5 separate regions of the Homo sapiens genome follow, and all the other regions are linked to region 4. The links come from fine-mapping of genetic effects on gene expression. A gene starts in region 4. Each other region holds a variant in brackets. All regions are shown on one strand. Distances are between the middles of the regions.

The links.
Region 1: its variant is fine-mapped to the expression of AAGAB in whole blood (INTERVAL, PIP above 0.99).
Region 2: its variant is fine-mapped to the expression of AAGAB in whole blood (TOPMed, PIP above 0.99).
Region 3: its variant is fine-mapped to the expression of AAGAB in whole blood (TOPMed, PIP above 0.99).
Region 5: its variant is fine-mapped to the expression of AAGAB in tibial nerve (GTEx, PIP above 0.99). The same link has a PIP of 0.9 or more in lung and tibial artery.

The regions. Positions count from the first base shown.
Region 1 is chr15:67,803,003-67,808,209 of GRCh38, reverse strand. MAP2K5 (mitogen-activated protein kinase kinase 5) reads right to left here. Exons shown (of 22, transcript NM_145160.3): 22 at 1,096-1,564. The coding sequence ends at 1,460. Among named protein-coding and RNA genes, the nearest start is that of SKOR1, 20 kb to the left of the region's middle. RefSeq lists enhancers at 2,703-3,563, 3,564-4,426. The variant G/T (reference allele first, on the strand shown) is at 2,858.
Region 2 is chr15:67,173,306-67,178,305 of GRCh38, reverse strand. All of the region lies in intron 5 of SMAD3 (SMAD family member 3), which reads right to left. Among named protein-coding and RNA genes, the nearest start is that of SMAD3-AS1, 29 kb to the right of the region's middle. RefSeq lists an enhancer at 2,204-2,253. The variant T/C (reference allele first, on the strand shown) is at 2,359.
Region 3 is chr15:67,929,993-67,935,199 of GRCh38, reverse strand. No RefSeq gene overlaps it. Among named protein-coding and RNA genes, the nearest start is that of RNU6-1, 93 kb to the right of the region's middle. The variant A/G (reference allele first, on the strand shown) is at 2,902.
Region 4 is chr15:67,252,661-67,257,660 of GRCh38, reverse strand. It overlaps AAGAB (alpha and gamma adaptin binding protein), which reads left to right and starts at 3,000. Exons shown (of 10, transcript NM_024666.5): 1 at 3,000-3,102. The coding sequence starts at 3,030. It overlaps IQCH (IQ motif containing H), which reads right to left and starts at 2,875. Exons shown (of 21, transcript NM_001031715.3): 1 at 2,714-2,875. The coding sequence starts at 2,764. RefSeq lists an enhancer at 2,940-3,259.
Region 5 is chr15:67,182,665-67,187,664 of GRCh38, reverse strand. It overlaps SMAD3 (SMAD family member 3), which reads right to left. Exons shown (of 9, transcript NM_005902.4): 7 at 2,801-2,938; 8 at 156-300. Among named protein-coding and RNA genes, the nearest start is that of SMAD3-AS1, 38 kb to the right of the region's middle. The variant G/A (reference allele first, on the strand shown) is at 2,434.

The sequences.
Region 1 (5,207 bases), 550 kb before region 4:
TGGGACCACAGGCATGCACCACCACACCCTGCTAATTTTTTAAGTTTTGTTAGAGACAGGGTCTCACTATGTTGGCTAAGGCTGGTCTTGAACTCGGGCTGAAGCAATCCTCCCCCCTCGACCTCCCAAAGTGTTGGGGTTACAGGCGAGAGCCATTGTGCCTGGCTCCAAACTCACCCTTTATAATAGCACCAATCCCACCCATGAGATGGAAGCCCAGCTGGGCAGTGGCTCCCTAGCAACGCGGTACCCTGTGGAGGGAGTGTGAACCTTCCATGGCTAGACGTCTCTGCTGTGACCCTGGGTGGTTATGTGCCCGGATGTTCAAGGAGCAGCAAGAAGACCAACTGGCTGGAGTCAAGAGAGAATTTTGGGTGATGGAACCAATATTCTTTGAAGGCAAAGACAGCAGGACTGGATGTGGGTGTGAAAAGGGAGTCAAAGCCATGTCCTGGCATTTTAGGGAGTGCCAAATGGCTTGGGCACTGGGAGGATGGAGATGCCATTTACTGACACAGGAAAGCAGTAGGAGGAGGTCTGGGTGGGGTGGGGGATTAGGAATTTGCTTCTGGACGTGTTGAGATGCTATTCAGACCTTCAAGTGGAATCCTGAGCCCCTTGGAGCCTCAGCTCCTCACCTGCAAAATGGGGGTAGCCAGGCTTACCTGGCATGTGGCTGAGGGGATTTCCTGAGAGGTGAGAGGTGGCAGGTGTGGGGTCAAGGGCAGTGAGGAGCAGGGGTGGGGCTGGGGTGGAGAAGGGCCTCTCAGAACAGCCCACTCCCTCCTCAGCCACGCAGGTCAGGTGGATGTGTCTGGCAGTCCAGTAAGGAGCTCATGGCGGGGGCCTGAGATCCGGGCCTACTCCTTGCCATGGGACCCATCCCAATGCCTCCGTGCTTCTGTTTCTCATCTGACAGTGGAGCTGGGCTGTGGGCCTCAGCACAACTGCGAGGAGCTAGCAGGAGGCTTGCAGGTGCCTGGGCAGGCAGCAGGCACTGTCACACACATCCCTGCTGAAGTGGAGATCCCACCTGCCCCCAGCCCTGGGGGGGGTCACAGACCCCCTGGACCACACAACTCTTATGGCAGAGGCTGTCACAAAGCATTAATACTTTTATTCCCATCAGTGATGCTGACGGGCCTGACCCTTTATAGAGAAAAACATTAGGAAAACAGAAGTGGGCAGGGACCCTGGGAGCCTCCATTCTCAATGCCCCACCCTTTACCTCTCTGCCAGTGTCAGCGCCTTCAAACCAGAAGGTATGGGGATGGCCTGGTGGGGTGGGCCACACATGGGGCTCCCCAGGCAAGGCCACCTGCTGACAGAGGTGAAGGCGAGGGCAGGGAAGCCAGGGCCCAGCAAAGCTCTTCTGGCGCAGGCAGCATACGGAGAAGGGCGACGGGTGGGTTGTTCTCCTTGGTTACTGGTCCTGGGCTTTCAGTGCCCTGCGGCAGCCTCACGGGGGCCCCTGCTGGCTCCGCCTCTCCTCCAGCGCCCGGCACACCCACATGGACACCACGGCGGCATTTCCATCATTGAACTGCACGATGAACGGGTGGCCCTGCGGGGAAGAGGAGGAGGCTGTGACAGGCAGTCCTCGGACTCCCGCGCTCATTGTACTTTCCAGGGCCTGCCCTCAGCCTGGATCTGATCTCTTTCCCCAGTAACCCTGTGAGGTAACGAGGGAGGCTATCAGCTCCATTTCACGGCCTAGATAATTGAGGCCCAGGGACGAGCAGTGACATACTGGTAGTCAGCACCAAGCGTGTGGAGTGCTGGCTGGCACATCTCAGACTCTGCCACCTCTTCCTGAGGCTCGCACTAGCCTGGAAGGTGCTTAAGGGCGAGGGCCTGTCTTCGCTGCACACTCTGCCTGGCCCTTCCTCTGCCCGGCATCACTCGCACGGCCAGTCAGCCGAGGCCTGGCACTGTGTTGCCAGCTTTCCGGTTCAGTTGGTGCCCAGAGACCAAAGAATCATCTCGTCAGAGGCTATGTCAATCCCTTTTAGCTTTCTCCTTTGTCTACAGCTCTCCTATAAAAAGAAGTCACCACCTGCAATTGGAGGGAAGGCAAACATGTCAGGGGAAGTGGGGAGGGGGAGGAATGTGCTGGGCTGTGCACAGGATCTCTGGGTTCCTGGTGAGAAGTTCCATTGGGGGCTGGACTCTGGAGGGGCCGGCCCTGTTGCCCTGTGGCCTGCCTCTGGTTCTAACCCACTTATCACACAGGCAGACCAGATTCTATTTAGCCAGTTCTCTTCTCTGCTGTCCTGAAGCACCAAGATTTACATCCACAATCTTAGGGCCTCCTGGGAATTCCCAGGGAAGGTCAGAAAAAAGCAGGGACAACCCCAGGGTTACCAGGCCACAGTCAGAGGTGAAAGGAAAAGTGAAAAGCCTTCTTTTTCTTCCTCTTCACCAAGTGGCTTCTTGCCCAGGAACTTACACCAAGTGGCTTCCTCTCCTACCCAAAACTGTGCAGCTTGCATGGTGAGACTCGGGGAGCCATAGCGAGGACAGAGAATGGGGGAGATGAGGGCGCCATGTGCCTGCCCCCAGCTCTTCTCCCTCCCTGTCCAGCGGCCGCTTCCTCGCTCCCCCCAGCTCTCTCCTCCCTCCAGCTTCCTCAGCCCCTCTTGGGCCTGTCCTCCACCTGCACAGGCTGGGCTTTCAGGGTTGCTTTCCCAGCACACCCCAGCCTTGACTGCAGCCCTAGAGAGGCTGCTTAAAGAGCCGCATGGCCTCGCCACGAGCTCATCACAAAGCCAGGAGGGATGTGGACCCTGGCTGTCCCAACCTCAGCGCCTGCAGGGGCTGTCAAGGACCAGGCCTGGGTAGAGCAGGGGACGGCATG[G/T]CCCCTCTGGACCACAGGTCAGAACTGTGGGGGACAGGAGAATGCTCAGGCCGCCTCATCCTAGGCTGATGCAGTGCCCGCCCCCAACCTTCTCATTCGAGGTTGGGAAACCTGCCCTGGGGACACCCTGCGTGGGTCTATCTCAGAGGCACACAGAGCACTGTCAGAGCTGCGAGGAGGAGGAGGAAACTCGGCTTCGAAGATGCCAAGGCACTCAACCCCGGGCAGGGACCCGCTGAGACTGGGGTGGAGCTAGGCCTGGAGCCCAGCTGGGTACTTCCCATAATCTGCTCATAGCACTCTGGGAGGCTCCTGACACACCTGCAGGACCCCTAAGGGCACAGGGGCCATGGAGGCCAGGCTGGGTGTGGCCCTGTGGATGGCAGAGGTTTGGTCTGGGGCCTGAGCAGGAGAGGCCCAGGAAGGACTGGATTTTGGCTTCCAAGTGTTCTCCTCCCCATATATATGCCCACCCCACGGCTGCTTTCCCAAATCGCTGCCTAGACAGAGGAAATCCTTCCCAAAGTCCAAGCGTGCACACTTCCTCTCAGGAGGCTCAGGAGGGGCGACCTCGTGCCCTTCTAAAGAACAAAGGGAGAAGCTGTGCTCACGAGTGACGGGCCCCTCCCCCCACGCCCGGGGTAACACAGTGTCACTTTCCCAGAATGCCGGGTGACTTTGGGGCCCATATGCTCCATCTCTGTTATCATCTGTTCTGGAACAAGCAGAGCGGAACTGCAGGAGGGAGCGTAGAGGCGTTCCTCCACATTCCAGAAGGGCGGATGGCCGCACTGCAGGGAGGCAGTTTGCCCAAGTGCCCCGGTAGGCGAGGGGAGAGGGCTGCTCAGCTGCAGCCATACTCAGCTCCGGTGGAGATGCCGGCCTCTCCTGCCCTCCTCAGCTGGGAGGTGACCTCGTCTCCTGCTGCTGCTGAGGCATGTTGTATCCCCGATACTTTACCCCACCTGCAAGGGAAGCGACCTGGACCCACTGCCTTTGTCCCAAGCCACTGTTGATTGGTTTAGGGTGGTTGCCTGACAGGGAGAATCACAGGGGACAGACATGGAGGGGACCCAGCGTCCTAGGCTGTGCACTGTGGACTTGGTAGCTGCTGGCAGCTGTTCACCACCATTTGACTGGACACAACAGAGAAAGCCAGTGTGTAGGACCCGAGAGCAGGAGGTGCTGTCCAGAGGCAGGCAGGCGGGGGGTCGTGACGGCACTGGAGACCCTGGGGCCATTACACCCAGAGCCTGGCAGCGTCTCTGCCTGCAGGGTCCACACGGTCACAGGATCCTGTGAGGCACCTCACAGGCTGGGGCTGGTTTCTGTTATTTGCAGCCAAAGAAGTGTTAACTCACACAGGTGGGCACAATCACCTCCACTTTACTGATGGAGGCTGCAGGGTCACAGCTGACCTGCCTGAGCTCCCAGACATGGGACTGAACCACAAGTCTGTAACCCAAACCCACTGCCCTGGGCTCTTCCTGGATAGAGGAGGGAGAATCAATATTCAGATTGCAATTCCCCCTCATCTTGTTTCTACCTTGGCGACTCAGGCCTGCCTAGCCAGAGGTGCAACCAGGGCTGCAGGCTGTAAGCCTAGACCATCCCAGGTCTTGACCTCTATCAGCACTGTCCCCTGGACACACTGGGAGAGTCACTGACTCCCCCTCCTCCCATCAGCCCTGCATGGGATTCAGGGAAAATACACCATGACCCCCATGTTAGAGGAGAGGACACTGAGGCCCAGGGAGGGAAGACAGGGGTTAGGAGCTGGCACTGAGCTCATGTCTCCTGGTTTCTATTCTGGAGTATTCTCGGGGCTGGCCTGGCTCCCCTGGGACCCTGGCAGGTGTGGCTCTCTCCTTCCTCCTAGACTGTAACTGACGCCCTTAACCCTGTGACATGCACAATGCAGGCATTCCTCATGAGTTTAGCAAGCAAACAAAATCTGATGGAGAATTTGGGAGGAAGCACAAAACTCACTTGGCCACCCAGAGGTGCCCGAGTTCCACACAGCCAGATGCCCTAGGCATCTTGGCAAGGCCAGACTCTTAAAGATGGATGGAGATAGCACACTGAATAATACCAAGTCCAGCTGGGAGGTGACCCCATCTCCTTCGTATTACTGATGAGGCACATTGTATCCGTGATGCTTTACACCACTCTGCAAGGGACTGACTTGGACAAGGAGTGCTGTGTGCTAGGCATTTGCCAAAGGTTTGTCCTGATGTGCCCACTGGCTCCCATGCTCACTGTGGCCCACACACAGCTATGCATCTCCATTGTGCTGAAGAGGAAACTGACACTCAGTGTGCAGAACTTGCCCAAGGGCAACCAACCAGGC
Region 2 (5,000 bases), 79 kb after region 4:
AACCCAGCCCACCATTCAAAAAAAGAAAAAGCTGGCAGGCCACCCATTGTGTCGCATGGTGCTAGAACCATGCTCTGGGGAAGGGTGGGCTTCAAGGACCCTCAGAATCAAAGACAGGCCTGGGGTCATAGGCCGAGAGGCCCTCCCAAGCAGATCTGAGCCCTTATCCAAACAGCCCTGCAACTCACAGACACACACCGGACAGTGTTGTGGAAAACCCCGGACACTAGGAACCTGACACATCATTAAGAAGATGCTTGTTTGAGGGAGCAGTGAAATCAGGCCAGTGGCAAAGTCTGCAGGCTGCCATTTCAGAGAGTGCTGTTTGGACAAGCTGCCCTGTGTTCAGAAGCGGGACTGAGCCAGAGCAGCACCCCAGCCATGCGCTTTCTATTCTCTGCAAACAACTAAAAGCCAGCCGTGATTTCCCTCCTTTCTAGGTCCCTCCCGCCCACCATGCCTCAGCTGCTTCCTCCCAGAACTTGTGCAAGAGGAGTGGCAGACCAGAAAGTATGGTCACCACCTGTGGGTTCTGCCTTCAATGGCACATTTTTCCTTAACAAAAAAAAAAACAAAAAAACAGACCATATGCAGTGGTTCATACCTGTAATCCCAAGCACTTTGGGAGGCCAAGGCAGGCAGATCACTTGAGGTCAGGATTTCGAGACCAGCCTGGCCAACCTGGCGAAACCCCGTCTCTACTAAAAATACAAAAATTAGCTGGGTGTGGTGACGGGTGCCTGTAATCCCAGCTACTCTGGAGGCTGAGGCAGGAGAATCACTTGAACCCAGGAGGCAGAGGTTGCAGTGAGCCAAGATCACGCCACTGCACTCCAGCCTGGGGGATAGAGCAAGACTCTGCCACACACCAAAAAAAAAAAAACCCAAAACACTAAATATGCCCTCATTTCTTTCCCAAAGTACTTATCCTTACCCTGGTTAGTACCAGAGAAACAAAAAGGACTCTGGAAAGAAGGCGGCTATAAATGGGATAACCATGAGGTTATAGTTACTGCAAAAGCATCCAGTTTGGCTCTGAGCTTCCTAGTAGACAAGACAAAAAGGGAACATGACATGGTCTATGGCTCTGGTTGGTGGATGGGCAATGCTTACTAGTTCCTCAGGGAAAACAAAGTTTGTCCTGGCATTAAATCTTAAAAGAAATCTCTCAGGGGGAGGTGGCAACCCCTCCCCTGACCAATCAATCAACTGATCAAGCAAGCAAGCAAATTAAGATCTGGTTTCAAGGATTTACCAACAAATGCAGAAGCAGTTCTATAGAAGGCTCCTCTAGGAGAATGACTACGGGGGGTAAGGTGACACACCCCATTGAAGAGCAGTTTCACCTCTAGGCTGAGCATTTTGCACAGCTGGGGTGGTAGACGATGGCACGTGCCCACGGCCTTCCCTTCAAACAGCCCTGCTCCTGGCCAGATTTCTGAGTCTGTGCTAATCTCTCCTCCCAGTGCAGAGGTGTTGGAGACGCAGGAACCTCCAGCTCCAGCCTTTGTGGATCCCCCTCCCCCACCAGTGTGGTGTCGGCCAGACTTCTCAAGTGCCATAGGGCACTTAATCCATGGCTGGCCCCCTGCCAGCCTAACGCATTGGCTGGCCTCAGTTTTCAGTCCTGTTCCAAGCTGGCACAGACGTTCCATTATGTTTAAGAAAAAGAAAACAGAATAAAACCCAGAAGGCAACACTTGGATTAAGGGATGCCTATTAAAAACATGTGCAAGAGATTCAAATCCCGTAAAGGAAGAGGTGGGGAGGCAAGGGGGGAAATTAACTTTCTCCTATAAATCGAAAGCAAGGAACGGGCAAAGGCCAGGAGCACTGCTGCTGCAAGACGAAAGGTCAAAACAGAAATGGGCTGGTTTCTGCTGGGCCCACCTCACCTGCGGAAGGCAGCTCTTCCTCAATCTAGGAGATTCCACACTCCAGTTCCCATGTTCCTCATCCACCACTTCTCAGTCCTGCCTGGGTCCTCTGCCTGGACTGCCCATCCCCCTCCTCTGCAGGGACTCGATCTTTAAGGCCCAGCTCACACGGCTGTGAAACACTCCCTCACTGCCTCAGTGCAGAATTAACCTTGTGTCCCAGAAACTGTGTACCTGAGTCTCCTATGCTAGAGGATGAGGTCTCTGTGAGCCCACGCCAGCTGTGTCCCAGCACCCAGGGTACTAATTCCAACCTATGTATCTGCGGACTAAAATACCAAACCAAGCTGCACAGAGACCCCCATGCCCTTTTAGCTTATGACCAGCATACTGCAACCAGGAACAGTGGCAAAGTCTAAAAACCGGGCCCTCAGGAGTATGAAGACAGAGCCGACAGCTGACTTCCTGTCATTATGTTGCC[T/C]GCCTGTGATTTCACAAGTGTGGGGAAGACCCTGCCTGTGATTTCACAAGTGTGGGGAAGACCGGAGCCAGAGGCTGCATTGTAAAAGAGCCTTGGGCAGCAGCATGAAGATGCCTGGAACTGGGTTGGGCCTCTGCCCTGGGCCGCCGTCCACACTCAGGGCTGGTGGTCTTCGGGCCGCCCTGCCACCACACCTGTGCTCACACATGGGCACAGGGGCTCATGAAGCAGAGGGGAAGCCGGGCCTGTCAGCGTGGAGTCTCACCCAGAATCCTAACCCTGACTCACGGGGCAACTTGCCCCCGATTCACACCTTCCCAGCAGAGGTGCAACTAGGCCAGTGCAAAGTGGCACCCTGGGGGGAGGGTCCTCCCTTTGGAAGAAATAACCTAAGAATTCTCAACTCTCAGGCAAGGTGCCTGAGGAAGCGTCAGTAGGGAGGGAGAACTATGTCAACAGGAGATGCTGCCTTGGGTCCAAGCTCAAGAAACATCCCATCATCCTAGTCTACACAATCTAGAGGGCAATTCACAGCAAACGACCACCTTTCAGTCTGAAGCACTGCATCCGGCATCAGCCACCTCCAAGCTGCCCTATCCCTCTCACTCCAAGCTGCCCCATCCCTGCCTCTCACTCCTGCCACTGGCACTCTGGAAGCCATCACCTCCTTTAACTCCAGCTCAACTGCTCCCTCAGGGCTCTCCCTGGTACATTATTTTCCTCAGTCATGGCTCCGCCCTAATCATCTCACTTTAAAGCAGGGAACAACTTACTCACCAGGCAGAAGCCAGCTCACTACCTTTTTCCTCTCTCCACCTGCCTCCTCCTTCCCCTCCATTTACCCCAATCCTTCCGCCTTAAATGCCTAGGAAATTCCCGGTGACTCACCCAGCACGCTGTGTAATAACAGGAACATCACCTGCTCATATCTCCTGCCCTGCAAACAACGGTCCCAGGTCCCAGGGTCTCCGAGAGCCTGCCTGGGGCAGGATGCTGAGCCAGGTCTCAACCAGGAGTCCCTGCCCCTTACCAGAAGTGGCTTTGCTGGGGCAAGGAGGCTCAACCTTCCCCAGACCTGAGCCCTGGGGCTAACACCTGGAGTGGGGAGGAAATGAAAGGAGAAACCAGATGTCCTCTGCTTTCTTTCTTTTTGTACAGTAATTTCATAATAATCTCTTTAAAGGAAATAATCAGATGTCCTGAGATGTCCCCATTTTTTCCTAGGAAGAGCTCCCTGTGTGCTTGCCTCCATCCTAGGGTTTGGGACGCACTGACTGTGAGTCAGCACAAAGGCTGCGCTGCTGGGTGCCTCCACCTCCCCACCTGGTACTTGCCCTTCAGTGCACTGCTGACTGACTGCAGCCCCTCCCCTCCTACACACTGCTCCCTAAAAGCTCCCCCTTGAAACCCTGATGCCAAATCCAAGGCCTCTTCTTAAATCTCATTTTGCATCTCTGCAGGGCCCGCTTGTAGCCACTGTCCTTCAGGGCTTGCCTCCCCTCTGAGCTGCTGTGACCCCATCATCCCCCTGACCTCAGCCTTCTCCAAGGAACCCCCACCACCCGAGCGCATCTCTGGCTGTCTTTCCATCTTGAGCTGGGTCGGCCTCTCCACTAAATCCATCCACTGGCATGACTTCAGCCAAACTTCATCGGTGTTTCCAGAGTCAGATCTATGGATGGGTAATGGGGCGGTAAGACAGAAGTACAGGAACAGTGATCAGTGCATGGGAGGAAGGCTGGGTCAGACAGGCCTCCTTCTGCAGGCTCCTCAGAGCGTGGCCATGTGAGTCCCTCCTGAGTGGGGGCTGGAGGAGAGGCCACAATACAGGCTTTCCACACTCATTCAACCACCAAACCCCTTCTCTCAGGCCCCGCTATGGGAAAGGCTGCCACATGTGTTCATGGTTTCCAAATCTGCGCCTCCAGCGCCAGCCGCTTTCCTGACTTTCCAACTGCTTCCTGGACATAGTTAAGCACAGGCAACCCACCACCATCTTTCACCCCCAACCCATTCCACTTCCTGGGTGTCCAGCCTCGATGGGGGCATCACCATCATCCCACTTAACGCTGGTCAACAAACCCTGCTCATTCAGGCCCATGATTCCCTCTCAAATGCATTCTCCCAGCTCTGCTACCATTTCTCGAAAGCATTTATCTCAGCCTCCTCCAGAGGAAGAGCTGTCTAAGTGGGTTTTTGTTTTGTTTTGTTTTGTTTTGCCTCCAGTAATTTCCCCTAGAATTTAGATTCCACACAGTGGCCAGATTAATCTTTATGAAGCTGTCATCAGAAAACCTCCCCAATCAAAACCCACAAACAACTTTATTCTATAGGCAAGAGGGCGCTAAGCAGACACTCAGGGGTCTTTTCCCAGTGCCCCACCTGCCATTTCAGCCTCCTTTTCCCACCTTGTCCCTCTTGAGACAACAACCAACCACCATGCCAGCTGTCCTCAGACCACATAATGCCCTTGGACCTGCAATGTCCTTCCATCCTTCTCTGCCTCACAGGGTCCCATCTGTCCTTCAAGGGCCCGCTCACACATGGCACAACCTCTCCCATGTCTCCCCACTCCATCCACACTTTCCTCCTTGGCATATACTATTCCTCCCTCTTCTGGACTTTCTCCCTGGGCACCTGGC
Region 3 (5,207 bases), 680 kb before region 4:
TTTTTTTTTTGAGATAGAGTCTCACTCTGTTGCCCAGACTGGAGTGCAGTGGCACAATCTGGCCCAGGTTCAAGTGATTCTCTTGCCTCAAACTCCTGAGTAGTTGGGGTTACAGGTACAGGCCACCCCACCTGGCTAATTTTTTTTTGTATTTTTTAGTAGAGACGGGTTTTGCCATGTTGTCCAGGCTGGTCTCCAACTCCTGTCCTCAAGTGATCCGCCCACCTCAGCCTCCCAAAGTGCTGAGATTACAGACATGAGCCACCATACCTGGACTACTTCTCCAAGACTTGAACTCCTATCTGCCACAGCAGTTCTAATATTTCTACTTTACTTAGTGTGAACCATTGCTTTTCCTAAGCTTCTAAAATCCATCTCTGAAGTGTGTTCACCCCCTTACCCTGGGTTCCTTGCCAGAGTGTTAAGTTCTGTATCATGGAGAGTACTCCCATATTAACACCTGCTCTTATCCACCTTTACCTTCCTCCCCTCTTGATCCAGCCTACTCAGGACCCTGTTCTGTGCACAGTGCTTGCTTAAATGTATTAGCTAGATCCTGTGGCTCCTGCAGCATATAGTGCCTCTCCTCCCTTAGCATGCTCAGCACAGCTGGGATTTAACTTTTATTAGATCGCCAGGAAGGAAGTAAAGTTGGGTTCTGAGGAGGACAAGCATTCTCATGTAGGGCACCTGCCTCACTGGAAACCTTGTATGATCTTTGATATAGTTTGGCTCTGCATCCCCACCCAAATCTCATGTTGAATTGTAATCCCCAGTGTTAGGGAAGGAGCCTAATGGGAGGTGATTTGATCATGGGGGCAGATTTCCCCTTACTGTTCTCATGATAGTGAGTGAGTTCTCACGAGTTCTGGTTGACAGTGTGTAGCACCTCCCCCGTCTTTTTCTTCTTCCTGCTCCAGTCATGTAGGACATGCCAGCTTCCCCTTCACCTTCTGCCATGATTGTAAGTTTCCTGAGGCCTCCCAGACCTGTACAGCCTGTGGAACTGTGAGCCAATTAAACCTCTTTTCTTCGTAAATTACCCAGTCTTGGGTAGTTCTTTATAGCAATGTGAGAACAGACTAGTGCAATCTTCAAATAAGGGGCACCACTGTTTGCCAACAAGAAGTGTGTCACTTCTGCAAACCCAGTGGGTTCAGAAGGACCTGAGAATTCAAGGTGCTTGACTGCATCTACTCATATATCCCCAACCCAAGTCTCAGGTTCCCAGTCCTCACCTATTATGGCTCTGACCCTGGCATTGGAGGCCTGTCAGGGCTGAAAAATCAAACCTTCTCCAAAGCTCTGCTATTTTTAACATTAAATCCTATGCCTGATCCTCCCTTTGCAGGAGGGATTTCCTTAACAGTTGCCCAGGAGGCCATCTGGCTTTAACATTTTACCTTGGTGATTATTCACTCTGAGGCTATCATTAAGTCTCTTTAGCAAGTAAATGGACTCAGCAATGGTCATTCATTTCCATAGTCCTTATAGTCACTACGGCCCCCAGTTGCCAGAGATACTACACCAATGAGTGTGACCCCTTCCACCCATATACCATATGTAGGGGAGAAAAGATTTATCTTCCTACTCATTGCTAGGTTCTTGGCTGAGACTCTGTAGCAAAAGACAGGTTAACAAGAGAAAAGCATACATATGTATTTAATATTAGTTTTACATGACACAGGAGCCTTCAGAAATGAAGACTCAAAGAAACAGGGAAACCTGTGTATCCTTATGCTTGGCTTTGATGAAGAATGAACAGTCCTGCAGAAGTCTAATGGGACAAAGGGGAGATGATCTAATAGTGATAAACTGCAGAGGGGGATCTTCACAAGGCCTCTTTGTTTAGACTCTTGTCCGTTCTTGTGTGACATTCCCTCAAGGTATAGGGCAGGACACCTGTCACCTGAGGGTTTTCAGGAGAGAAGGGTGGGAGAAGGTCAGATTGTCACCTTCCTAAGTTTTATGGCCTTGCTTCAGGGAAGAAGGTAGAGGGGAAGGTGAGAGTAGCCTTCCTGTTTCTACTATTTTCTCAATTTCCAAGGTGTTATTATTTGAAGCAGCATTTTCTGCATCCCATCACGCCCCAGTTCACCAGAAATGCAAGTTTTAGCCATCATGCAGTTACAGCATGGCAGGGACTATCCTTACCACTCCTATACCAGTTCATGGAGAGCTGACTAGCAAGTGATCCCTCTCCAAACTCCCACTTTAGAGTCTGCCACCTTGAACCCCTCTGACACCAACTGTCCTAAGTTTGGGTTCCCTGGAAGCAGACTCTGAGATGGAGGTGGTTTCTGTCTGCAGAAGGTTTCTTAGGCAGTAATTTTGGGAGATACACCTGTACGTAAGTGAGAGGGCAGGATTGAGAAGAGGGAGAAGATGACCCCCAATGTGGTTGCAACCAGGAAGAGCCAATCCTACAGGGAGCTCTGAGCCACATGGCCCTTCAGAGGGTCCCAAATTGAGGCAAGGGGCCCAGGCTTTATATCCTCACGTCAGCCAGTCACAGCCTAATGACTACCCTTGGGGTCTGGGCATCACCTTGGTGGAAGCAGTGACTTGTGGCCAAGGGCAATTCCCAGTGAGGGAAGTAGCCAATATTCCCAGCAGCTGGGAATGAGTGTGTGGGCTCTGAAGAGGAATCTGAAAGGAACATTGCTATATCCACTAGAATATGCATCTCTGAATGAGATAAAATGTGTGAAGAGAGCTTAGCAATATGCCAGGTACATATTTTTTAAGTTCCTACATGATATGGCTTGAATGTGTCCCTCAAAGTTCATGTGTTGAAAACTCAATCCCCAATGCAGCAGTTTTGAGAGGTTAGACCTTTAAGAGGTGATTAGTGGCCAGGCATGATAGCTCATGCCTGTAATTCCAGCACTTTGGGAGGCC[A/G]AGGTGGGAGGACTGCTTGAGAGCCTGGGAGTTCAAGACCAGCCTAGGCAACATATGGAGACCCTGTATCTACAAAAAATAATTTAAAAAAAAACAGCTGGGTGTGCTGGTGCATGCCTGAAGTCCCAGCTACTAAGGAGGTGGGAGGATCACTTGAGCCTGGGAGGTCAAGCCTGCAGTGAGCTATGATTGCACCGCCGCACTTCAGTCTGGGCAACACAGTGAGTCATGTCTCCAGGAAAAAAAGAAAAAGAGGTGATATGTCATGTGGGCTCTGCCCTCATGAATGGATTAATGCCACTATTGAAGGAGTGGGTTCATGATCTCAGGAGTTTGTTTTTTGATAAAAGGAATGAGTTTGGCCTTCGTCCCCTCTTGCTCTCTCAGGCTCTCTTGCCCTTCCATCTTCTGCCACAGGATGACACAGCATGAAGGCCCTTGCCAGATGCAAGTCCCTTGATCTTAGACTTCCCAGCCTCTAGAACTGTAAGAAATAAATCTCTTTTTAAAATAAATTACCCAGTCTATGGTATTCTGTTACAGCAACACAAAATGGACTAAGACACTATTATTGTTATTTATAATAGTTATGATTTATGTAATGAGGATAAACCATACAAAGTTGCTTACATTTAACAGTGTTTGACTTATTAATATGGCAATTTCATATAGTTTAACCTTGTAACTAATAAGAACAATTAGCAATCTAATGCCTGTTCTACATATAAGATTATTTTGAGGATCAACTAGAAATGGATATATAGGAAACTGTTTTGTAAAAGTGAAACGTTCTATTAAAATGTTGAGGCCAGACATGGTGGCTCACACTTGTAATCACAGCACTTTGGGAGGCAGAGGTAGGAGGATCACTTGAGCCCAGGAGTTCAAGACCAGTTTAGGCAACATTATGAGATCCCATCTGTACAAAAAACACAAAAATTAGCCGGGCATGATGGGGCACACTTGTAGTCCCAGCTACTCAGGAGGCTGAGGTGAGAGGATTGCTTTTAGCCTTGGAGTTCAAGCATTATGTGAGCTGTAATGCACCACTGCACTCAAGCCTGGGCAACAGAGCAAGATCCTGTCTCAAAAAAACAAAAAAACCTCACATGTTGACATACTAGATTATTGCTGTTATCTATTTTTACTACCACAACATCTAATAGAACAACTATGTTCAGGCCTCCCCAGCCAATGAAAATAAACTGCCTTATCTCCATTTAATGCTCAAGCTACAATTTCCTTTGAACCCTACTGGCCCACATAGGAACTCAGTCCCTGCAGGACCATCCCTAGCTATTTTGGAGAGGCCCCAGGTGCTAAGTTACCACTGCCCCAGAACTTGCCCTTATGTTCTCCCCCTCCAGCTTCCTTAGTCTGCACACCTGCTGCGATTTCCCACACTGCTGAGCTTGTCTGTCCCTGCACCGAGCCCAGCATTCTGAGTGGGATATTGTTTTGTAAAGTGAAAAGTTCTATTAAAATGTTCAGGCCAGGTATGGTGGCCACTCAGCCCCAAGCATGGCCAGAGCCTTCCCCTCAGTGCATCATACTCAACAGAAACCAGATGCAGTGTCTAGCAGGAGCTGATTAAATTTGGGCACCATGGAAGAAGAATAAAATACAAAGAAATACATACTCAACACAGTGACCAATGTGGATTTTATCAGAGCCCAGGTTGGTACCCAGATAATCTCATAGGACCACCTAGCTGTTCAGCCCCAGCTTGTTCCCCATCAGCAGGGTCCAGCCCAGCTCCTTCTCTCAGGTTGCCTGGAACATGTCTTCCCTTGTAGGGCAGACCCAACTTTGTTGAGAGAGAGAGAGAGAGAGAGAGAGAGAACACACTTCTTTCTCACCCCAAAGGTCCACATCTTGAGTTCTCAATTTCTACCCCAGGACAAACTTCCTCCCAAGATGACTGGCATGGGAACATTTCTTCAGTGGAATCTACCCCACTCCTCAGGCTTGGACTTGCCCTTTGCCAACAGCAGGACAATTACATAAATACACAATGGCTCAAGTTCAGTCCAGGATATTGTGGATATATTATGTGTCCAGCCCAGCCTGGTCCAGGCCCTTTTCAGTTTCTTTTCCAATCGACAACCTTGTCTGAAAGTACTCTCTGCAGTACTCTGGAGTTCCAAAAATCTTCCAAAACATTTGTCCAAAGCAACTGCCATTCTATAAGAACAAGCAACAGTTTATTGCCTGGGGCACTCTTGAATTAAGGCAGAACTGAGAAACCTTTCTCTACCCTCCACTTACCCTAAAGAGTACAGTATTAGCAGAGCATCTACTGCATG
Region 4 (5,000 bases):
CTTCTAAGATTTACAAAGCATGATTGGAAACTTCCCAGAGTCACTATCACACTTCTTCAAGATTACTTCATGAACATGCCATAGCCTATTTAAGGATCAATACATACTGGATGTATTACAATGGGCAAGATGCTTTACTTCTTTGTACCTAAGTGTCTTCTGTAAACTGGAGCTAAAAAATAATACTTACAACACCTTTGAGAACCACTGGTCTAAAAAGCTGTTTAATATATCTGACTGATACACAGACGTAACTGACCATATTAGGGTGAAGCAAGTAGAAATTTAAAGTACCTCTGCTTTACAGTCTATTGCACACACACACTCACTCAGTCACTGACTTGCCAGAAACAATTTGATTGCCTAGGCTAACAACAAAGGAAGTCTACTTTTACAGTAAATGATGTAGCCTGGGGAAATTGGGACAATTTAAAGTCAGAAGTGAACCTAATCCAAACTATATGTCCTATGGAAGAGGAAAGTGAGGTCCAGAGAGATGAGTGCCTAACTCAAAGTCACTACTTGTGAGACTGTCAAAGTCATGGTCAGATCTCAGTATTCTGACTCCCTATCAAGTGCTTTCCACTAGACACACTAATTATTGGTAGCCTGTCTGAGGGAAATAAATCATAGCCCCAAATAGAAGTGGAATCCACGTTGGCACAGTTGGGTGGTGCTACATACTCACACATTCTCAGGATTCACTGAGAAAGTAGGGAAAGTCTTCCAAATTTCCTCACTATACATATTCTACATGTAGAGAATAGAATTTTATACTATACAGGAATCAGTCTTAATAATCTGGTTAACAGGTAGGCTCTCTTCCTCTACACAGCCCTTTACTTGATATGTCCACAGGAATCCTTTTAAATAAGTAGGGGTGCAGATCAACATGGATATGACTATTAGCTCTTCTGACCCATCTCACAAGTCAGTGTCAACAGTTATCTATTACTATAATGTTGTATCCTAGGTAAGAGTCTCCATTATTGTTCTAATTATTTGGAATCTATAAAAAGAGTGGGTATGTGCAGCAAAGAATTAACCTTACCCAAAGAGGGGTCCAGTCTTCGCTCCTGGCTACTGGGAGGTGATCTCTAGGCGCCTGGGATGTCCTGCCTGATAGAAGTGTCTTTGTCTGTGGGCTTTGGCCACCAGACAGTCTATCAACATGATTTATAATGGGTGTTTTGATCCACGCTGTATCAGCTCAGACCTCTGGAGCAGCGGGAAACTAAAAGTATTCAGGAGGGGCTGGAGATTAATGGTCAACCACAAGGGCAGTGTGAGATTGAGCCCCAGTAAAAACTCTGGACATCAAAGCCTCAGATAAGCTTCTCTAGTTGCAATATTCTATGCATATTGTCACATATCATGGCTGGGAGGAAGTAATGCAGGTAATGACGTCAATGACTCCACAGGGATAAGATGACCAAAAGCTCTATGTTTGTACCCCTCCTGGACTCTGTCCTATTCATCTCTTTCCTTGGCTGATTAATTTGTATGCCTTCACTATAATAAAATTGGAGATGTGAGCACAGCACTTCCCTGAGCTCTGCGAATAGTTCTAGTGAATCATTGAATGTGAGGGTGGTGATGGGGCCCCTAAGTTTGTACCCAGCTGGTCTGAAGTGAGGTGGTTCTGGGGACCCCTGAACTTGCAGGTAGTGAGTGTTGAAGTTAGGGCAGTTTTTTGTGGACCGTTCCCTCAGACTTCGCAGTTTGGCTAAACTCATTGCTGCGTGATGGTGAAAGTGAGGGTGAGAAAAGATCAGGTAAGATTAGGTATGATTCTTAATGGGGAAGTCTATGAAATTGGTGAGTTCAGGGGCTTGTATTTGGGAAAAGGTACATTTAGGGAAGTCTCTCCTAGATGGGAGGTAAGAGATCAAAATTCTGCCAGAAAAATTAGATCCCTTTGACGAGTAAGACCCACTTCAGACCAACTGAGTGACAGTCCTGACAGAGTGACCTTAGACAAATGACTTCAAGACTTAGTCAAATGCAGCTATTATATATGTGATAGTTAAAACCGATGATATATGTGGAAATATCTTAAAGTTACCTCACATAAATGTGAAAACAAAATGCCATGATCATTTCAGAAACATCTGAGTGCAACTATTACAAATTGAGCTGTATTGGACAAGACTTTCTTGACATTTCCCCTCTCAAATTAAAAAGGTCTTTCACTAAGTTTTTAAATGTCACATTTTTTCATTCCAAGTTATCTTGATTTTTCTGTGTGTTCTCCAATGAGGAACATTTAGATCTAAAAAACTGGGGTGTTTAAGAAAAGCAATTCACATATTTCAATTTGTCTCCAAATTTCTTATCACCTCCTAGAGTGTCCGATTTGTCTCTCCTCCACTCCCGACGTCATGGGTTCAAATTTTTCAGAATATAACATTTAAAAATGATGCCTCAGCGTGAGGTTAATTTTTCTGAAGTAAAGGTTCCGGGTGAACGGTTTTAGAGTTTTCCCAGAGGCAGAAAGTCCTGCTTCTGGGGCGTAACCTACAGGGTAAGTCACCGGGAGTGTGCTGGGCCGTGGGGGAAGGTCTGGGTGGGCATTTTTGGGAGCCTCTCGCGAGTTGGAGGGAGTCTAGGGGCGGCGCACCAAATGGGTGAGCGTCGGTGAATCGGCGCGCGGGACCTCGCTCGGAAGTGGCGCGGCTGGGCAGGGCAGGGCCGGGGGAAGCCCGTTTCCCACCTGGATTAAGATGGATCCGACAGGGTCGTGGTTTTCAGTGTTCTGTGCCATGGCTAGGTCAGGGAACGGCTACCTCCGCGGAGGCGCGGTTTCCAAGCACGGAAACCTTCAGCCGGAGCCGCTCGTCCCCATGGCAACACCGCGCGCGACCTGGCCTGTTCCACGCTGGGAGCGGAAGGGGGTCTAGGGGCGGGGTCAGGCCAGCCTGGTCATTCCGAGAACGCCCTCTCCGGCCTGTCTCCCCCTCGCGCCGGCGGCCGTGGTGCAGCCCAAGGCGGAAGCGGCTGCCTGACGGAACCGGCTCGCGAGCGCAGCTATGGCTGCTGGCGTACCCTGTGCGTTAGTCACCAGCTGCTCCTCCGTCTTCTCAGGAGACCAGCTGGTCCAACGTGAGTAGATAGGCGCCTGGGCCGACCTCCAAGGCCCCTGAGCCTCAGCGGGCGACGGACCCAGCACCACGGCCTCTCTGGGCCTTGTCCCCGCAGCGGGCCCTGCGTTCTTCCTCCAGTCAGTGGAGGCGCCCAGTCTCCCCAGGTGGCTGCCCCTATCTCTTAATCTCGTGCTTTTCTGCCCACTCGGCCTTCTTCGGCGTTCCTTTCGGCTTCCTGTGTAAAGTGAGACTGATTTCCCGCTCTGCTCAGCCCAGGCCACAGGTTTTTGCGAGGATCCGTTGAGATGAACCTGAAGGCTCTCCGGAAATTGCGCTAGGTTACAGGAGTGTAAGGTGCTGGAATTGTTGATATCGTGATGTTGTTATCCTTGCTGCTCCGGGAGAGAGTGTTTACTCTGAATTCTGAAGTTTATTCTGCGTATTTACTCTGAAGTTTATTCTGCTTCTTAATGTGTACATTATAAGACTTGTTAGCTTTGTCCGCTCCACTCTAGTTATTCACGCCTTTCATCTGAGGCATGGGCTCTCCGCCAACATGAGTTTTTGGGTATGATTGGGCTAGTGCTTTTGCTTGTAGACCCTCATAATGGCTGTCAGACTTACTAACTCTTAAAAGAGAGAACATGGGACTGGATAATAAGCCAACTCTACTAAAGGGCTCTGTGAAGTTGAATTATAGGTAACTCAAGACTTCTGTTTTAAGTGTATGGCTTAGAATCAGAGCAGTGACTTAGCTGTATGATCTCGAGCAAGTCACCTAACCTACCTACATTCCTTCCTTCTTTTCTTTTTTTTTTTTTAAAGAGACGGGAACTTGCTCTGTCGCCCGGGCTGGAGTGCAGTGATGCGATCATAGCTCACTTCAGCCTCGAACTCCTGGGCTCAAGCGATCCTCCTGCCTCAGTCTCCCGAGCAACTGGGACTGCAGGCTCACACCACGAACCCTGGCTAATTTTTTTATTTTTTGTAGAGCCAGAGTCTTGCTATGTTGCTCAGGCTGGTCTCCAACTCGTGGTTTCAAGTGATCCTCCTGTCTTGGCCGCCCTAAGTGCTGAGATTACAGGCGTGAGCCACTGTGCCTGGCTACCCTTCACTTTCTCTTTTCTCTCCTTTTTTTTATTTTTGTTTTGAGATAGGGTCTCACTCTGCTGCCCAGGCTGTAGTGCAGTGGCGTTATCTCGGCTCACTGCAACCTCTGCCTCCTGGGCTCAAGCCATCCCCCTACCTCAGCCTCCCAAGTATCTGGGACTACAGGTGTGTGCCACCACGCCCGGCTAATTGCCCCCCCCCCCCCCCGTCATACGGGGTTTGGCCATGTTGCCCAGGCTGGTCTGGAACTCCCGGGCTCAAGTGATCTGCCTGCCTTTGCCACCCAAAGTGCTGGGATTACAGGTGTGAGTCACCACCGCGCCCGGCCCCTTCACCTTCTATCTATAAAATAGGGATAATTTTCGCAAGATTGTGCTTATCCCCGAGTCTGGCACATAGTAAACATTTGATAAATCATAGACATTATTATTAAGGCACATTACTATCTCTGTAACCCTCAATTTCCTGATCCTTAAAATGGGGCATATGAGCCTATTTCAGGAGTATTTGAAGGACAGATGATGTGACATTTTGAACACACTTTGTAAACTGTAAAGCATTGTATAATTATAATTTCTTTGCTACACCTGTCAAATGACAGAATTAGGTAAGATGTCCCTTCAGTGCAGATATTATATGACTTAGTTATCATTTGTGATCACTTAGAAAGTTCCTTGCTAGGGTAAAAGCTTAATTATAGCATTTAACTAAGTGGTTACTAACTGGTCTAATTAGGCCATTTTCTTACCTTTAAGCAGTGCTCCTTCCTATTTTCTCCCTTCCCTCCTTTCTTCCTTCTTTTCTTCC
Region 5 (5,000 bases), 70 kb after region 4:
TCCTGCCTGCCAGGCCTTGGCCTCTCTCTGATCTTTGGTCTTTCTGCTCTTGACGCTAGGGCTGGCCTAGCTCATCTCTGAGGAGCCCTGCCTGCTCTGCTGTCCAGAGTCACCTGGAGTTGGGTCCCCTGATGTAGGCAGCACCCATAACTGACCTGTACTCCGCTCCCCAGCCTTTGACGAAGCTCATGCGGATGGTGCACATTCGGGTCAACTGGTAGACAGCCTCAAAGCCCTGGTTGACCGACTGGGCCAGGAGGGCAGCGAACTCCTGGTTGTTGAAGATCTTCAGGTTGCATCCTGCCAAAAACACAGAAACAGGGCTGTGGGGATGGAAGTGGCCAGGTCCGTTGCTCCCCTCCTGGATAAAGCAAGTCCTGGACCCCCTAGACCAGCCTCATTTATACAGCTCCAGGGACACATGGTGTGTGATGCATTTGCCACACACTCCACACTCAGTACCATGCAAAGGGAAGGCCAACCCAGTCCCTCCCCTTGAACCCATCTCCTCACTGGGAGGTGCCACTGACATACCTGCAAGGGGAGATGGAAGGCTGGCCCACAAGCTCCGACTCCCAGAGCAGGGAGAAGTCTGCAAAGAGGGCTTCCAAAAATAGGGAGATGGTGTGGAGAGGGGGGCCTTTCCTTGGGCAAAGGGACCAGGGGACAGAGAGATAAGGGACCTGGGCCAGGTTGCCCATGCTGTGTGGGGTCTGGTCACCCACCTAGGAACAGGAGCTCTGGCCGTTCCACAGCAGGCAGTGCCCCCAGAGACGGGCTGGCCGAAAGGCTACTGGGCCTGCCGTCCCCACAGGAAGCTTGGCAGAGGGCCCAGTGCACCCTCCACCTGGGCTCCTCTGATGAATACACCTGGTGCTGGGGCTAGGAGGTAAGGAGAGATCTGGGCCAAATTTTGGCCTCTGGGCACTGGGCTGGGTGGAGGTGACATTCACAGCTAAGTGAAGGTGTGCATCTGATTCTCCAGACAGTAAAACTAAAGACAGTCACAAATAAAGTTTAAAATAAATGTCGTTTGAAGTCTTACTGCCTGAGTGCCAGGAATGTGTCAACCAGAAAAATAAAGACAAAAGCACATGCTGGAAATAGCCAAAAGGTGAGCCGGGGTGACGCTTATGAATGAGCCAACAGCAGGCTCCTGTTCTTGCTGTGTGACTCTGAGCTGGTCGCTTTCTCTTGGGGACCCTGTGTCTCTGTATAATGAAGGGCTGGCCTCAGAGGTCCTTCCAGCTCTGACATTCTATGAGCTGACAAACAACACCACAGCCAACTCAGCCCTCACCCAAAAGATGGGGGTGGGGCCGGGGAATGGAAGAGGCAGAAGGCCAAGAGCGTCACTGAGCTTCCTCTTCTTCATTCTCTCCAAGGACAAGGGTGGTGGAACAGGGCTGAACCTGGGCCCTGACCCCCAGCAGAGCCAAGAAGCAGAAGAGCACCAAACTTGAGAGTCCATCAGCCCTAGGCCCCATCCCGGCTTGGCCACTTACTAGCTGTGTGCGCTTGGGCAGGTGGCTGAAACTCTCTGAACTTGTCTCTCAAAGCGTCTCCTTACTTATAGAGCCAGAGAATAACTGGTGAGGACTAAATGAGGTCAACGATCGGAATGTACTCTATAAATGCAACCACAAAATGCTCTGGAAACCTGGTGTGCTATTATCATTTCAGACTTTCTGCATTCTAAAGTTTCCCCTGCCTGTGGTCTACCACTTCTCCACTACCATCTGCTACTCAGTGGGCAGGAAGGGGCATGCCACACACGTGCCACAGGCAATGGCCTGGCCAGGTTACCTGCTCCACTAGTCTGTCACAGGCCATGTTCTGTGGGCTGCCTACACAGTGGCTGCACGTCCTGTGAAAAGTGGACTTTGGCTGGGGCTTTCTGCCTTGGTTTCCTGAGGAAAGAGGCCTTAGATGGGATCAGCCACCTGCCTGATCTTGCTGTCCAGGCGTGGCCCTGTCCAAACCACTCTCGGGGGTGCAGCCTGACACCTCTTCTTGGGGTACAGGTGGGATTTTTCAGGCTCACTCAGAAAACCCTCAGCAGTTCCCTAGAGTCAAACTCTCTGGTGTCCTTCCACGGCCTCATGCTGTTGTGCTTTTGAAACATTTCCCCTGACGGTCTCATACATGACCCTCCTCCAGCCAGAGAGCTACCCATCCATGTCCTGCCCTCCATTACCTCAGGCCCTTTGCCTGGGCTGCTCCCCCTGTCTAGAATGCCCTCCCTGTGCCTAGTGCCTACCTATCCTTCAGGATCCGGATGTTTCTCCTCCATGAAGACTTCCCTGATCCATCCCAACAGCTAAATGGGCCTTCTCTCTACCTGGGCTGCTGGCTTGGTGCTTGGCACCCGTCCCTTATATTGAACTCATCCGTGTCTTTGTCTTCTGTGCTCTGCAGGCCTGTAAGGTCTGC[G/A]GGGGCAGAGCAGGGCCGCATCTACCTCTTCATCCCCTACAGCACCTGGCACAGAGCCCTGCATGCTGTTTGTGCAATGAATGAGTGAAGAAAGGAAGCCATACTGCCTGAGCATCTACGCACAGGGCAACAGGCAGGTACCCACAGGTTAAAGGCAGACCTATCAGATGCTACATCTGCTCCCTGGAAGTTCAGGGAAAGCACAGTTAGATCTGTGGGCATAGAGAAAACCTAATCCAATCACCTCCAGATTGACAACGCAATCATGAGTGAGCAGAAAAGGTGAGAAAGGTGGACTCTCTCCAGCATCCTAGGCATGCACTCGGAGAGGGACCTCAAGGCAGGGGTGCCTGTGCGGCTCGTTTACCTGGTGGGATCTTGCAGACGGTGGCCGGGTGCCAGCCATAGCGCTGGTTACAGTTGGGAGACTGGACAAAAATAGCGCTGTCACTGAGGCACTCTGCGAAGACCTCCCCTCCGATGTAGTAGAGCCGCACGCCTCTTCCTACAGAGATTCAGGTTAGACTGGACAGGGTGCCTTTGCTCACACACAATGGCCCTGGGGCCACCTGAGGCTCGCAAAGGAGGCAGAACAGCAGAGCTGCTCCCAGTGACTGCCAGCTTCCCCAGGCAAACGGGCCCCAAAGCCCAAGCCTAAAGTAGGGGAAATGGGCACTGCCGGATTCCTAAAGCCAAGGGAGGCAGATGACAAGAGATGGGCACACAGGATAGGTCTCAGTGACAGCCTTTGCCACTGAGTAGGCATGGGCCTCAGTCAAGTTATTCACCCTCTGAGTCTTCGTTTGTCTCTACGATAGGGATGGGGGCCAGGCGCGGTGGCTCACACCAATAATCCCAGAGCTTTAGGAGGGCAAGGTGGGAGGATCACTTGAGGCCAGGAGTTCAAGGCCAGCCTGGGCAATGTAATGAGACTTCATCTCTACAAAAACATTTTTTTTTTAATTAACTGGGCATAGTGGCATATCCTTGTAGTCCTAGCTGCTTGGGAGGCTGAGGTGAGTGGATTGCTTGAGCCCAGGGGTTCAAGACTGCCGTGAGCTCCCATCACACCACTGCACTCCAGCCTGGGAGACAGAGTGAGACCCTAACTCCAAAAAAAAAAAAAAAAAGGGAATGATGATAACCTCTACCCTTGCAGGATTACTGTGAGACACACAGTAAGTGCCTGGTGTCAGCTTTTCTTGCTGCTACTGCTACTACTACCCCACTATTATTTGGTCTCTTCACACTCCAAGATTCAGAGATTCATTCAGTAAACCTGCAGGGCTCCTTCTGATGCAGCAGACACCCCAAGGAGCCCTTTATTGCAGGGATGGTTTAACGCTATGCCCTTATTTTTTTCTTCCCTCAATGCATTTTTCTAAAACATTCCAGAGGTTTATATCATTTACTTTTCTTTCATCTCTTAAATCCACTCCAGATGGACAGAAATTATTTTTAAATTGGCTCTGCAACTCAAACAGTTGCGTAAACTCTGACAATGAGCTCTTTGCTCGGCCAGGGGATGGTCCCTTCTCCTGCATGGCAAAGTCTCTGCTCCATTCCTGGGGAAGAAGCTCAGAGGTCAGAACACGGAGCCAGATATTACAGGCCCAGCATCCGGTAGGATGAACACGAGGTGACCGACCCATGCATCACTGGATGTCCCCTGTCCTGCCTCCTATTCCCACTACTGTCCCCTTCCTCCAACCACTCCCCATTTTTTCTGGCTTTAGTTCTGCAGGGTGCTGGTGGCTCAGAGTCCACAGGAGGGATGACTTCCTGGCTGTCCACAACTGTATCATGTCAGTAAGAGCAGAAGGCAGAGGTGGGGATGCGAAGACCCAGACCAAAAATGTTTGTTTCGTTTCAGTAACTTAAAAAAATAGGCCGGGCATGGTGGCTCACACCTGTAATCCCAGTACCTTGGGAGGCTGAGGCGGGCAGATCACCTGAGGTCAGGAGTTCGAGACTAGCCTGGCCAACGTGGTGAATCCCCATATCTACTAAAAATACAAAAAATTAGCCAGGTGTGGTGGCACATGCCTGTAATCCCAGCTACTCAGGAGGCTGAAGCAGGAGAATCACTTGAACCTGGGAGGTGGAGGTTGCAGTGAGCCAAGATTGTGCCATCGCACTCCAGCCTGGGAGACAAGAGCGAGACTTGGTCTCCCCGCTCCAAAAAAAAAAAAAAAAAAAATATATATATATATATATATATATATATATATTTTTTTTTTTTTTTAATAAAATATAGAAAAAAGCCAGTTGCAGTGGTATATGCCTATTGTCCCAGCTAATCAGGAGGCTGAGATGGGAGGATAGCTTGAGCCCAAGAGTTTGCGACTGGGCCTGGGCAACATAGCAAGACCCTATCTCTAAATCAATCAATCAATCAAACAGTGGTATGCCACCCAGAATAAGTATCTTTTTTGAAGTAAAAAACAAAAAGCGAAATGGGAACAACAGGTCTGGTAGTGGTGGCTGTCTGTCACTGACAATGAGGTCTCTGCAGAGCCGTTCCCTACCCTCCCCAACCCCCTAGACATCAGGTCCCTTTCCTAGAA